Regions from separate parts of the Homo sapiens genome. Here all the other regions are reported to be linked to region 1. Evidence: microRNA targets listed by miRTarBase, many of them from high-throughput screens and not tested one by one. Region 1 holds a microRNA gene; each other region holds the end of a gene's coding sequence.
Evidence for each region. Region 1 holds the annotated microRNA hsa-miR-3679-3p (CUUCCCCCCAGUAAUCUUCAUC, at 2,067-2,088, shown strand). A microRNA usually pairs through its seed, bases 2 to 8, with sites in the 3' UTR of a target mRNA and lowers its output. Matches are read on the target gene's strand: a 7mer-m8 pairs with bases 2 to 8, a 7mer-A1 pairs with bases 2 to 7 and ends in A, and an 8mer does both.

Region 2: the mRNA of SEMA4D is a reported target of hsa-miR-3679-3p. Seed matches in the 3' UTR shown: 8mer at 885-892.
Region 3: the mRNA of GLIS3 is a reported target of hsa-miR-3679-3p. Seed matches in the 3' UTR shown: 7mer-m8 at 2,572-2,578 and 8mer at 3,867-3,874.

What each region holds. Positions count from the first base shown.
Region 1 is chr2:134,125,102-134,129,322 of GRCh38, forward strand. It overlaps MIR3679 (microRNA 3679), which reads left to right and starts at 2,024; the gene lies at 2,024-2,091. It also overlaps a transcript of MGAT5 not described here.
Region 2 is chr9:89,375,071-89,379,291 of GRCh38, reverse strand. It overlaps SEMA4D (semaphorin 4D), which reads left to right. Exons shown (of 16, transcript NM_001371194.2): 16 at 1-2,057. The coding sequence ends at 588. Among named protein-coding and RNA genes, the nearest start is that of SECISBP2, 59 kb to the right of the region's middle. RefSeq lists an enhancer at 3,257-3,366 and a silencer at 3,837-3,896.
Region 3 is chr9:3,824,448-3,828,668 of GRCh38, reverse strand. GLIS3 (GLIS family zinc finger 3) reads left to right here. Exons shown (of 11, transcript NM_001042413.2): 11 at 261-4,221. The coding sequence ends at 397. Among named protein-coding and RNA genes, the nearest start is that of GLIS3-AS1, 72 kb to the left of the region's middle.

The DNA of each region.
Region 1 (4,221 bases):
GAGAAACATCAAGAAAGGGTAGACAAGAAAATAGGAATGATGGCGATGAAAAAAATCCACCTTCTCCGATTGGCATTATTGCAAATGCTTCTTTTGTACTACAGGTATTTCACTCAACAATGAGGTAGATTCTGTTGTTATTCCAAGTTTATACATGGAGAGACCATAACATCATGAGGTCAGGAAATCTAGCTAAGGTTACAAACAGCTACTCAGTGGCAGAGCAAGGATTTGAAGCCAGGTGGTCTAGATCCAGAGCCAGTGTGGGTTGGGCTGTGAGTAGTGGTTAAGGCTGGTGAGTATGCCCTGTACTAGCCAGCACCTTCTTTCCAACCTAAGCCGAGAGGGCTTCATAGATACCCAGGGGCACTGCAGGGAGGGCCCTCCTCTTTCTAGCTGAGGTCACCGAGGTGCAGAGAGGTGGAGGGACTTTCTCAAAGTCTCACCAGCAGGCAGCAGTGGCAAAGCTGGACCTCACATCTCCTCTGTGGTCCCACAGGAACAATTGGTAACAGTTGATAACGGGTGCCTGCCTGCTTTGTTTATAGCAATGATACAGGAAGAGAATTGATGGCCACTGGGCATCTGTTCCTCACTGGAGCCCACTGTGTGCTCACACCCAGCTTCACCTTGGAATGTGGTAGGGAGCAGGTTGGTGTGGCCCAGTTCCCTCCTACCATCCCCAGCTGGGAGAATCTAAGTGACGTATATCCTTTGGAATGAGGGGTTCCCTTTCTCATGTCACCTTTTAAGTTTGACATGATAAGAATCCAGTCTGGGCTGGATTTTACATTTCACTCTTATTAATTCTCTGTGTTTTAGGGCTCCTGGCTCCTCTCAGCATTGATTTCCTTTCTTTAGGAGCATGGGGTAGGTGAGGAGTGACCTGGAAGAGGTATCAGGACCATTCCTTAACATTTCTGATAATCGGTGCCTGTGAAGACATTCCCGCAGTGTCTGCGGAGTCCTAGAAAGAGAGCAGAGGCCACACAAAATGCTTTTCTGAACCCAAGATCGCCATACTTTGTGGAATCTTCCCATTGGACATAGCAGTGAGCACCCGTTTCCTTTCCTGCCCTCACCTGTTCCTGATTCGGAATGCTTCTGCCAAATAAATAGTCACTGGCTACCCAAGGAGTTTAAAGTCTAAGCCTGGTCAATGCACACCCAGAAGAGTTAAGTTCAGTGATAAAGGGAAATGTAGATGAACATACTAATTCAGCCCATGTGACCACTTTGGGCCTCAGCTGTTAGGTTGAGAAGTAAGAGGGGATTGAATGCGCTCCAAAGATCCGTTCAGTTCCTAATGTTGCTTAATTCTATACATGTGGCAAAAGGCTTGTAACATAAATTAAATGAAATTCCCTTATTAAATTAAAAAGAAGGTTGAGAACACATTCAGGTTGTTTTTGCCCTGGCCAGTAGACTCTCTTTAGCAGGCAGCCGAAAAGCTTAACTAAGAAGAATCAGCCCTTTATTGTTACTCTCTTTGGGGATGTTTATCTTTGTATGTTTAGAAATAAAAAACCTTGGTCCTTACTTTCAGCCCTGAAATAACCTGCTTTCCTTTAGTGAAGCTATTTTTTCCCTTGGGAAATTGAGATTCAAAGAGTAGAGAAGATGACCAGGCTCATAGCCTTCTGTGGTTCCTCGCACAGTGCCCTGGGGACGTGGCTAGGTGTTTACACACTGCCACAAGCAGGGCCAAATTCTGTCTACACATTCAGTGTGTAACTACTACCTTTCAACATAAGGAAGTTTGGTATCAGTCTTCTTGCAGCTGCTTTTTTTTTTTTTAAACCATCTTATTTTCACCTCCAGTTTGTTATTTACAAGCATCCATGCCGGTGAGGAGTTTTCTGAATGACCGATTCTTTCTTGGATGCAAAGAGAAAGTACCATCTCTGCCTCATGCTCTGTGTGATTTCTCTGTTTTCCTTTGGCACCTTTCTTAGTATTTGTTTGGTATACTTCCTTCGTCCCCTTTCCTGTAATTTTTTAGAGCACCTAGTTAGAGGCCCCACGTGGTGAGGATATGGCAGGGAAGGGGAGTTTCCCTCTATTCCCTTCCCCCCAGTAATCTTCATCATGCGGTGTCCCCAGTCCTGTGTAAGACCTTTGCAAACACAGCTTCAAGCCCCTCTGTTCATCTTGATTGCCTTCCCTCTGTAAAAAAGTTCTAGTCTCTGTGACTAAGAATGTTAACATTCTTCCTTTATTTGATTTTTAGCTATTATGCTTGGTGGGTTTAAAGATGACATTGTTATTGGGCAGTCTTCACTGTACATTACACACAAATGTAATTCTCCTGGGTAAATACGATCAACTTTTAGAGGTTCACCATTCCTCCTTTGCAATTCTTATGTCCAGTGAGCTCCTTCAAGGAAAAGGTTTCCCCCCCCCCCAGGCTTGTTCCAACCCCCCCAAAACAAAAAAAGAAACATGTAGGTCCAATAAAGAAAGGAGTGTCATGGAGCTCTCATGGGTACAGGCTGGAAGCTCCAGGCCTGGCGTGCTGGAGTCACGAGATGAGCTGTCCAGGCAGCATGGCATCGTGAGTGAACTCCGACCGTGGCAGGTGAGGCTTCTGCACTTAGCTGGCTGTCTTCATGTGGGCCGATTCTGTGGTTAGTGATTCTGATTTCTCATCTGAAAAGTGGTGCATCACTTAGCCCCTCCCACACTTGGAGGGTTCTACTAGTGTGCCTGCGTGGCTGGGTTCTGCACACTCAGCTACTTTAGTTTCTTTAGTCTATCCTTAAAAAGATTCCTAGGTGTGTTCCTGATTTTGAGGTTCCGTTTGGTCATTATGCTCTTTCAGAGTTCATCTTTTAAAATCAGTCTGTGGACATTTTTTTTTTCCTCTTAGCACAGTTTATGGTCTCATGCAGGTCAACAAATTGGGACTCTGAATGTGAGTGTGTGTGTCCACACACCACTAGGGCTTATTACCTTATTGTCAATGTTATCTTAAGAAAAAGTGGAGGCTGGGTGCAGTGGCTCATGCCTGTAATCCCAGCACTCTCAGAGGCTGAGATGGAAGGATTGCTTGAGCCCAGGAGTTTGAGACCAGCCTGAGCAACAAAGCAAGACTCCTGCCTCTACAAAGAAAAAAAAAAAAGAGAGAAAGAGAAGGAGAGAATGAAAGAAAAGAAAAAGAAAAGAAAGAGAGAGAGAGAAAGAAGAAAGAGGGAGTGATCAGAGAGCTGCAGGTTTGGAGTAGCCATCAGTTAAAGGAAGTCTGCAGAAAGTTTCTGTGAAAGGATTTTGTTACTATGGCCTTTCCCCTAGTACCAGCTTGTTAAGTAGTATAGGTAGGGGATCCTTGGTAATACTGTGTATTAAGATTTTATTGTTCTTCCTGTAAAGTGTTTTTCATGATAATGAGTTGCTTATTCTATGATAGTGCCTTTTCTCTATTTCTGTAAGCAGAATCAAATACAACTTTCAAGTTTTATTAGTTCTTTTTTTTTTAGAGACAGGGTCTTTCTCTGTCACCCAGGCTAGAGTGCAGTGGTGCAATCATAGCTCACTGTAACCTCCAACTCCTGGGCTGAAGTGATTCTCTTGCCTCAGCTTCTTGAGTAGCTAGGGCTACAGGCATGTGTCACCACGCCTGGCTAAATTTTTAAAAAAAATTTTAGTTTTTGGAGAGACACGAGTCTTACTATGTTGCTCAAGCTGGTCTCGAAGTCCTGGCCTCAAGCGATCCTACTGCCTTAGTCTCTCAAAATGCCTTAGTCTCTCTTAGTGCTCACAGTTGTGAGCCACCGTGTCTGGACAGCTTTCCATTTTTTGATGCCATGTCTGGTTAATACTCTTTAAGTTTCCGAGTTTCTTCCTCCTAGTTCAGTGGTTTCAAGTGTGACTGTTCTATTTCCTCACTGTCAGTCTCTAATAGAAATACTACAAGATTACTTCTATTGCTGCTGTAACAGCCACAAACTTAGCAGCTAAAGCCACACACATTTATTCTCTTTGAATTCTGTAGGTCAGAGGTCCCTTATGGGTCTCACTGGCCGAGATCAAGGTGTCTATTCCTTTCTGGAGGCTTGAAGGGAGAATCGGTCTCCTTGCCTTTTCTAGCTTCTAGAGGCTGCCCGTGTTCCTAGGCTCATGCCCCCTTCTCCAGTTTCAATGCCAGCAATGTCCAGCTGAGTCCTTGTCTCTCTGCCATCACACTGATACTCTCACCAAGCTGGGAAAAGTTCTCTGCTTTTC
Region 2 (4,221 bases), not on the chromosome of region 1:
ATTGCCACCAAAGTGTTGGTGGCATCCACCCAAGGGTCTTCTCCCCCAACCCCAGCCGTGCAGGCCACCTCCTCCGGGGCCATCACCCTTCCTCCCAAGCCTGCGCCCACCGGCACATCCTGCGAACCAAAGATCGTCATCAACACGGTCCCCCAGCTCCACTCGGAGAAAACCATGTATCTTAAGTCCAGCGACAACCGCCTCCTCATGTCCCTCTTCCTCTTCTTCTTTGTTCTCTTCCTCTGCCTCTTTTTCTACAACTGCTATAAGGGATACCTGCCCAGACAGTGCTTGAAATTCCGCTCGGCCCTACTAATTGGGAAGAAGAAGCCCAAGTCAGATTTCTGTGACCGTGAGCAGAGCCTGAAGGAGACGTTAGTAGAGCCAGGGAGCTTCTCCCAGCAGAATGGGGAGCACCCCAAGCCAGCCCTGGACACCGGCTATGAGACCGAGCAAGACACCATCACCAGCAAAGTCCCCACGGATAGGGAGGACTCACAGAGGATCGACGACCTTTCTGCCAGGGACAAGCCCTTTGACGTCAAGTGTGAGCTGAAGTTCGCTGACTCAGACGCAGATGGAGACTGAGGCCGGCTGTGCATCCCCGCTGGTGCCTCGGCTGCGACGTGTCCAGGCGTGGAGAGTTTTGTGTTTCTCCTGTTCAGTATCCGAGTCTCGTGCAGTGCTGCGTAGGTTAGCCCGCATCGTGCAGACAACCTCAGTCCTCTTGTCTATTTTCTCTTGGGTTGAGCCTGTGACTTGGTTTCTCTTTGTCCTTTTGGAAAAATGACAAGCATTGCATCCCAGTCTTGTGTTCCGAAGTCAGTCGGAGTACTTGAAGAAGGCCCACGGGCGGCACGGAGTTCCTGAGCCCTTTCTGTAGTGGGGGAAAGGTGGCTGGACCTCTGTTGGCTGAGAAGAGCATCCCTTCAGCTTCCCCTCCCCGTAGCAGCCACTAAAAGATTATTTAATTCCAGATTGGAAATGACATTTTAGTTTATCAGATTGGTAACTTATCGCCTGTTGTCCAGATTGGCACGAACCTTTTCTTCCACTTAATTATTTTTTTAGGATTTTGCTTTGATTGTGTTTATGTCATGGGTCATTTTTTTTTAGTTACAGAAGCAGTTGTGTTAATATTTAGAAGAAGATGTATATCTTCCAGATTTTGTTATATATTTGGCATAAAATACGGCTTACGTTGCTTAAGATTCTCAGGGATAAACTTCCTTTTGCTAAATGCATTCTTTCTGCTTTTAGAAATGTAGACATAAACACTCCCCGGAGCCCACTCACCTTTTTTCTTTTTCTTTTTTTTTTTTTAACTTTATTCCTTGAGGGAAGCATTGTTTTTGGAGAGATTTTCTTTCTGTACTTCGTTTTACTTTTCTTTTTTTTTAACTTTTACTCTCTCGAAGAAGAGGACCTTCCCACATCCACGAGGTGGGTTTTGAGCAAGGGAAGGTAGCCTGGATGAGCTGAGTGGAGCCAGGCTGGCCCAGAGCTGAGATGGGAGTGCGGTACAATCTGGAGCCCACAGCTGTCGGTCAGAACCTCCTGTGAGACAGATGGAACCTTCACAAGGGCGCCTTTGGTTCTCTGAACATCTCCTTTCTCTTCTTGCTTCAATTGCTTACCCACTGCCTGCCCAGACTTTCTATCCAGCCTCACTGAGCTGCCCACTACTGGAAGGGAACTGGGCCTCGGTGGCCGGGGCCGCGAGCTGTGACCACAGCACCCTCAAGCATACGGCGCTGTTCCTGCCACTGTCCTGAAGATGTGAATGGGTGGTACGATTTCAACACTGGTTAATTTCACACTCCATCTCCCCGCTTTGTAAATACCCATCGGGAAGAGACTTTTTTTCCATGGTGAAGAGCAATAAACTCTGGATGTTTGTGCGCGTGTGTGGACAGTCTTATCTTCCAGCATGATAGGATTTGACCATTTTGGTGTAAACATTTGTGTTTTATAAGATTTACCTTGTTTTTATTTTTCTACTTTGAATTGTATACATTTGGAAAGTACCCAAATAAATGAGAAGCTTCTATCCTTGATTTGGGGAAGACATTCCTTAGCGGAGGCTGTGCAGCCTCCCGCCCCTGCATGGCCCAGGCGGGACAGCTGGGCTCGCTCTTTTCTGTCCGTTTCCTGCTGTGTTTTGCCCTCTCTGGCCTGTGACGTGCTCCTGGCGACTTCTTCCTCAGTGCCCTCTCTTTTCTGTCCTCTCTGTCTCACAGCCTCGTCTCCTAAGCCCCTCCCTCCTCCTGGCTCCTCTTCCCTGTCCTGTCTGGGCCATGTGGGGGACAGGAGGCTTTCCTCTCCCTGGACCCCCTGGCCAGCCTCGGGTGCGGGGCCCGACAGCAGCTCGAGGGTCTCCTTGCTGCCGCCCTTCCTGAGTGACCAGGCACAGCACGTGCACGCCCTGGGGAACTTCTACCTCTTCTGCCAGGCCACAGGTGAGTTGGGCCCTCTCTGTCCCCTGTGCCCTGTCCATCTGTCTCCTCCCACAGGTGGGGGGCGGGCGGGGGCATCCTCCACATCCCTCCACATGTTCCTTTACCTTCCTTATCTGTCCTGGCTGCGTCCCTCGGGTTGAGCCGTTTCACGCTTTCATTGTGGGTCCATCCCGAGGGAAACTGTAGACAGTGTGAAGCCACTTCTAGTGTACAGGGGTCAACCAGTGTTTTCTGTAAAGGGCTAGATATTTAGGCCTTGTGGGCTGCAGGCTGTGTCACAGCCACTAAGCTCTGCTGTTGTATTGTAAAACCAGCCATAGTCAATACACAACGAGTGGTCAGGGCTGTGTGCCAGTAAAACTTTATTTATAAAAATGCACGGTGGGCCAGATTTGCCCCAAAGGCCCCAGTTTCCCAACCTGTGGTATATAGGATTGCTTCTCCCTTAAAAAAAAAAAAAATTTCAAGAGACAGGGTCTCCCTCTGTCACCAAGGCTGGAGTGCAGTGACACAATCATAGCTCACTGCAGCCCCTGCCTCCTGGGCTTAAGCCATCCTCCTGCCTCAGCCTCCAGAGCCAGAGTGCTTCTATTTCTGCTAACAATTTGGAGGTTGATATACGTGGTATTTGGAAATTTTAAAAAATTAAGAGCTTCCAGAATGGGAGTTGTTTTAATGACTTGCTTCGTGGTATTTAAAAGCGGAAAAGATTGGCGGGCATAATCCCCCTGCTTTGGGAGGCCAAGGCAGGAGGATTGCTTGAAGCCAGGAGTTTCACAGCAGCTTGAGCAACATAGCGAGACCTGATCTCTACCCAAAAATGTGAAAAAAACTAACCAGGCTTGGTGGCACGTGCCTTGAGGATTGTTTGAGCCCAGGAGTTTGAGGTTACAGTAAGGTATGATGGTGCCACTGCACTCCAGCCTAGATCACAGAACAAGACCCTGTCTCAAAAATCATCATCATTATAAAAACAGAAAAGATTGAGAGTCTAGTGTACTCCTCTGGGACCTGGAGGCATTTGCCCTGGATTGGAAAATACTCGGATGGGATATCTGCTCTTGAAAGATAGTAGATGTCCAGAACCACACTTCAAAGATGTATCCTGTGCTTCAGGCAGTGCGTGGTAGCCCTGGTGGCCCCTGTGTTGTCATCTGACTGATCAGTAGATACAGAAAGAAAGGAAGTGGCCTGTTAGAGCCTGCCCCGGGGGAGGGATGAAGTTAATGAAGAGGAAAAGCAAACCCAATTGCTCTCTTTTTAAACATGTTAAACACACTGTCAGTAGCTCCTGAGAGTTTTAAGGTGCTGCCCTCTCCTGTTAAACAAGCTCTGAGAGCCCCAGGTGGCCCATGTCTGCTGAGGCCAGAATGTCCCTTGGCAGCCAGCACTGGACAGGAGAAGCTGCCGGTGAGCATGGAGCACTGTGGAGACGGAGCTTTGCTAGGCTGGCTTGTGTGGTTCCTGCCCTCCACTGGGTGCTACGGACCAAGGCTGTGCTGAGCCCCCTGTGGCCGCTCTCACAGCTGAATGGTGCTCCTCGGCCAGCTAGTTTGCCTTGGTGCAGGCATCCCAGAGGACTTCATGTCTCCATGGAGACTGTGTCCTGTCGCAGCACTGGGGTCCTTCAGGCAGACTCAGGAAGCTCCTCCTCGGTGGGGAGGCTGGGAAGCGGGCGGGTCTCTATGAACTGGCCGTGGACCCAGGGCTCCTTTGCGGGCAGATGCAGGCAGGCTGTATGGTCAGGCAATGTTGGTTGGTT
Region 3 (4,221 bases), not on the chromosome of region 1:
CCAGCCTTCCCTAGAACACTTTTCTTTTACTTCTTCTCAGCCTGTCTTTTGTGTGGTCATATTTTAGCCAGCTGCCTGCAAGTCAGCCTCTTCCCTCACTAAGGTCGCTGGAAACAGAGACTCACTATAGGGCCCAGGCTGGCATGGTTGCCTCCTTAGCCCCCAGTCCTCACTTGGTGAGCTGCATTACTGTAGTGCATTTCCAGTGGGCGTGGCATGGGGCAGGAGTTACTGACTTAACTGCGTTCTTTCTCTTCCAGTGTATGATTTACCTTCAAGTTCCTCGAGCCTCTTTGGGGAGTCTCTCCGCAGCGGGGCTGAAGATGCTACCTTCTTGCAGATCAGCACCGTGGACCGCTGTCCTAGCCAGCTCTCCTCTGTCTACACCGAAGGCTAAAAGCTCTCTTGGCCACTCCTGCACACCCAGGACCTTGATGTTGCTTGCCACCTTTTGTTTTCGTACTCTCACAGACTGCTTGAGGAAGGATGTCAGCCCAATCAGCGGGCCCTGCAGAGTTACTGATGTTCTTTCAGAAGGCAGGACTGAATGGCAGAGCTAGCTTTGCAGGAATCATTACAGTTGCTCCTTTTTCTCTCTGGTTTTCCTGGACTATGTGACCAGGAGGACTGTCTTTTCAAAGGGAATTTAGAGCCTCACTCTCCTGGATACCTGTTACTTCCTGGCTGTCAACCCTTAAAGGACCCCAGTGAAATGATGTGCATATGAAAATGTAGTTTGGGGATGACTCTACCTGAAAACTCCAAACAGGGAAAAAGACCTCAATTACGAGAGGCATAGTGACCTGCCTCACCTAATCCTCACCCTTGCTGCTCCTGATGCAAAGCCAGGCACAACAAGGGAAATCCATGTCCAAAGCATAGTGTGGTCTCAACTCTTAGAAACTCCCTGGGTTTCCCTTTTCTCTTAGCCACATGCTAACCAGTTGCTTCTCAGTGTTTCTCTTCAATAGAAAAATAAGGTTTTATATGCCAGCAGCCTATCCTTGTTTTTGCATTTTAAAGACTTAGTTATTTATACGTATTTTAAAATGAAAAAAAAATGTAAAGGTCTGTGCTTTGGATGGAAATCATTATTATTGTAATCACCCCAGCTATAGACATTTTGCACAGCTGTGGTTCTGCCTGGCCCCACCTCTAGCATGTTAGTTTTGCAGTTAGCAAAGGTTACCTGAGGGAAATGGAGTGGGCACCTCCCGCACCAACAGTCCTGTAGCTGGAACCTTCCTGAGTTGACTGTTTAGTAACTCCACCTCAAAGACTGTGTTCAAAGAAAAATGTTGTTTGACTGGTTTACCCATTGCCTCCACTCTGGTGCTGCACCCAGAGAAGTGCCAGATGTGAGAACTGGGACAGACTGAGTCATGTGCCAGCTTCCCTTGGAAAACCAAACCTAGTGATACTTGACTTCCAGTGCTCAGATTTTACTAACGTTTTTCAGGATATCCACTCATCTGTCTGTCTCTTCCCTACACTTCTCTCCACCCTCTTTTTGCATCCCTCTTACCCTCTTCCTGACTGTGGTTCATATATCCCCACCAGCCGCCATTGTCTGATCATCTTGGGAAGGTAGAGGTGACAGTTCTCGAAAAGTCTACAGAAAGAGGCAATTCTTTTTCTGAGTTCCAGTTTGAAGGCCTGGAATTTTCACATAGCACTTGGTCGAAAATATCAAGCCTAAATAGGAAGTCATTTTCTGTGACACCTCTACATAGCTATTACAGATCCTAAGTCCTAGGGCATCAGCTATAAAAATTGGCCAGTCCCAAAGACACAGTAAGTTCTAACATTCTGGTACTATCATATTTCAAGTATTTTTTCTCACTTTTTAAAAATGTTTTTCTGAACAAAAGTGAAACAATGCCATTTATCAAACTGAGATCATTACAATCTTCAACAAGACAACTAAAACAGCTTGATGTTAGATGGGATTCTGTGACAGTTTGTATACTGACAGGTCCTTCCAGTCTCCCTCCACAGTCCCACAAGCGGAAGTATTCTACCTGATTCCAGAGTTCATTCCAACATGCAGTAGAATGAGGTGAATGAAGAACCAAGTGTGGGTTTTGTTTTCACAGTGCACTTGGTCAATCTAGTTTCTCTGAGTAGTGGGCTGTATTCTAAGAAAAGCTTTCACGTAGACGTCAAAGTCTGCAAAAGAGATGAGTTAGCCACTTTAAAAAACCTGCTCTGCTTTACAAAAGATGCACACCAGGCTTCCTTTACAAGTGAACTCCAAGGCTGCTTGTAAAGTACCACCCTTCCTGCAGACTTTGTGGGTCGTGTCACTTGGCCTAAACAAGTGGCCTAACATATGCATGCTCACAGCTAGTAGCATCCCTCATGCGTCCTTTGTCATACTCTGGAAAGAAAAAAACTCTGCTATCTTCAGAGAAACCATCTATTCATACTTAAATATGGAAGCCTTTACAAGGAACTCAAAATACATTTCATTTCATTTGTACAATGAGAAAAAAGATGAAAAGGCAAGGTTGTTATTGCAGTTGACATTGTCAGCCCTGCCTTTTGGCTTTATGTAATTTAAAATAGAAAGGGGGAAGGAGGACAAGACAGAAGCTCAACTTTAGAAACCATGGACATCACCTCCCTCTTTGAGAGGAGCTGCTTGTGAACCAGGCTCCAGTCTTCCTGTGGCCTCTCACAGTAACCCTGCCCCTTTCTTACCTCACAGGGGCAAGAGGGACTCTAAAGAGGGCGTAAGCAATAGAGGCACCTGCAGCCCTCCTTCCTCAGCAGGAAATCAATGTGGAGCCCCAGAGGGACATTTTATCTCAGAGAGAGCATGCTGGCCACAGGACCCAGTGCAGCCCTGCTTCCCGCACCGTGGGTCTTTCCTGATAGCTGCAGGCTTGAGATTGCAGCCTCAGGATAGGACACGTTCAGATGCCTTCCAGACTACACACACTATGCTTAGATTCGAGAGTCTTTCCTGACCTTAAAATTTGTCCCTTGCTTACTTTCACACTGCAGAAGATTTATATATATATTCATCATTATTTTTGCAGCAGTACAAGTGGAAACTTCAAAAAAATCATTCCCTTTCATGTCCTGGTCTTTTTAAGTCTTGATATGTAACCATTTTCATAAATGTCCAAACAGAGATTGTCATTCCCCTTAAAAACAGAAACAAAACACAAAACTAGTGCTTGTGAAAACACACAGCGCAAAGACAATTATCCTATTGCATTAAAAAAAAAATCAGTCTGCCTAGAGACATTTCATTGGCTGCATTGTCTTAATTCCCTAACGAAACTGCATCAAAATGTCAGTTGTAATTTAGCCTCTGATCAGCTGTTAAATATTATTTAAATATTTACAGGTCCTGTGGGGTATCTCCCATTACCCATGTCGCCCTCAAATTACATAAGCGATCATAAAATAAGAAGAAAAAAAAAGGTCTTTAGTAGATCACAGCAGAGTTACCACTGATAAGAGTGTTGGCTTTGTTCAGTTGTTTCTAAATTACCAGCCGTCAAGCACAGTAGCCCCTAAAACCAATTTTGAGCAAGGATAAATTCAACTCCCTCATCTGAGAACCTTGACTTTCCAGTTGCCTTGAAGTATTGGGAATAGTAACTGTACATTTTCAATTTAATTATTTGGTATTTTATTTGACTGTCTTGGCCATGTCATTTTATGGAAGCATTTTTAAATAGCACTTTTTGTTAGTGGTGTGGAATTTCTGCGGTTATTATTTTTTTTTTTTTTTGCAACAGATGAAGCAAAAAAAAAAAAGCACTCATTGGAGAAATAGTGAGTGTAAAAAGAGATTTATTTTGTACAGACAGCAAAGTATCCTGTGTAATGTTGCTGACATAAAGCACTTTGGGGGAAAAAAGTGGAAATCTGTTTTCCATAAATCACACAGACTCTTGTACATAGTTATATACACTCACGTAGAGAAATGAACTGCATATATCATACTGGATATGGGGCCGATTTTACTCTAGAGGCACATCTGGTGCTTATTGTCATAAATCTTTTAAAGAATTAGGTACACTTTTTTCTATTAATATGTATAGTTTTGTGATTTGTCACAGTTATGTTTCATATAATCATAAGTTATTTTGTCTTGTTCATGAAGTCCTTTTTTTATGTCAAAAGTAAAATGAAGGGATTGTGCACTTGGTACAGAATAAAACTGGAAATAGAGAAGACGCCCTCCTGCCTAAAATCCTCCTT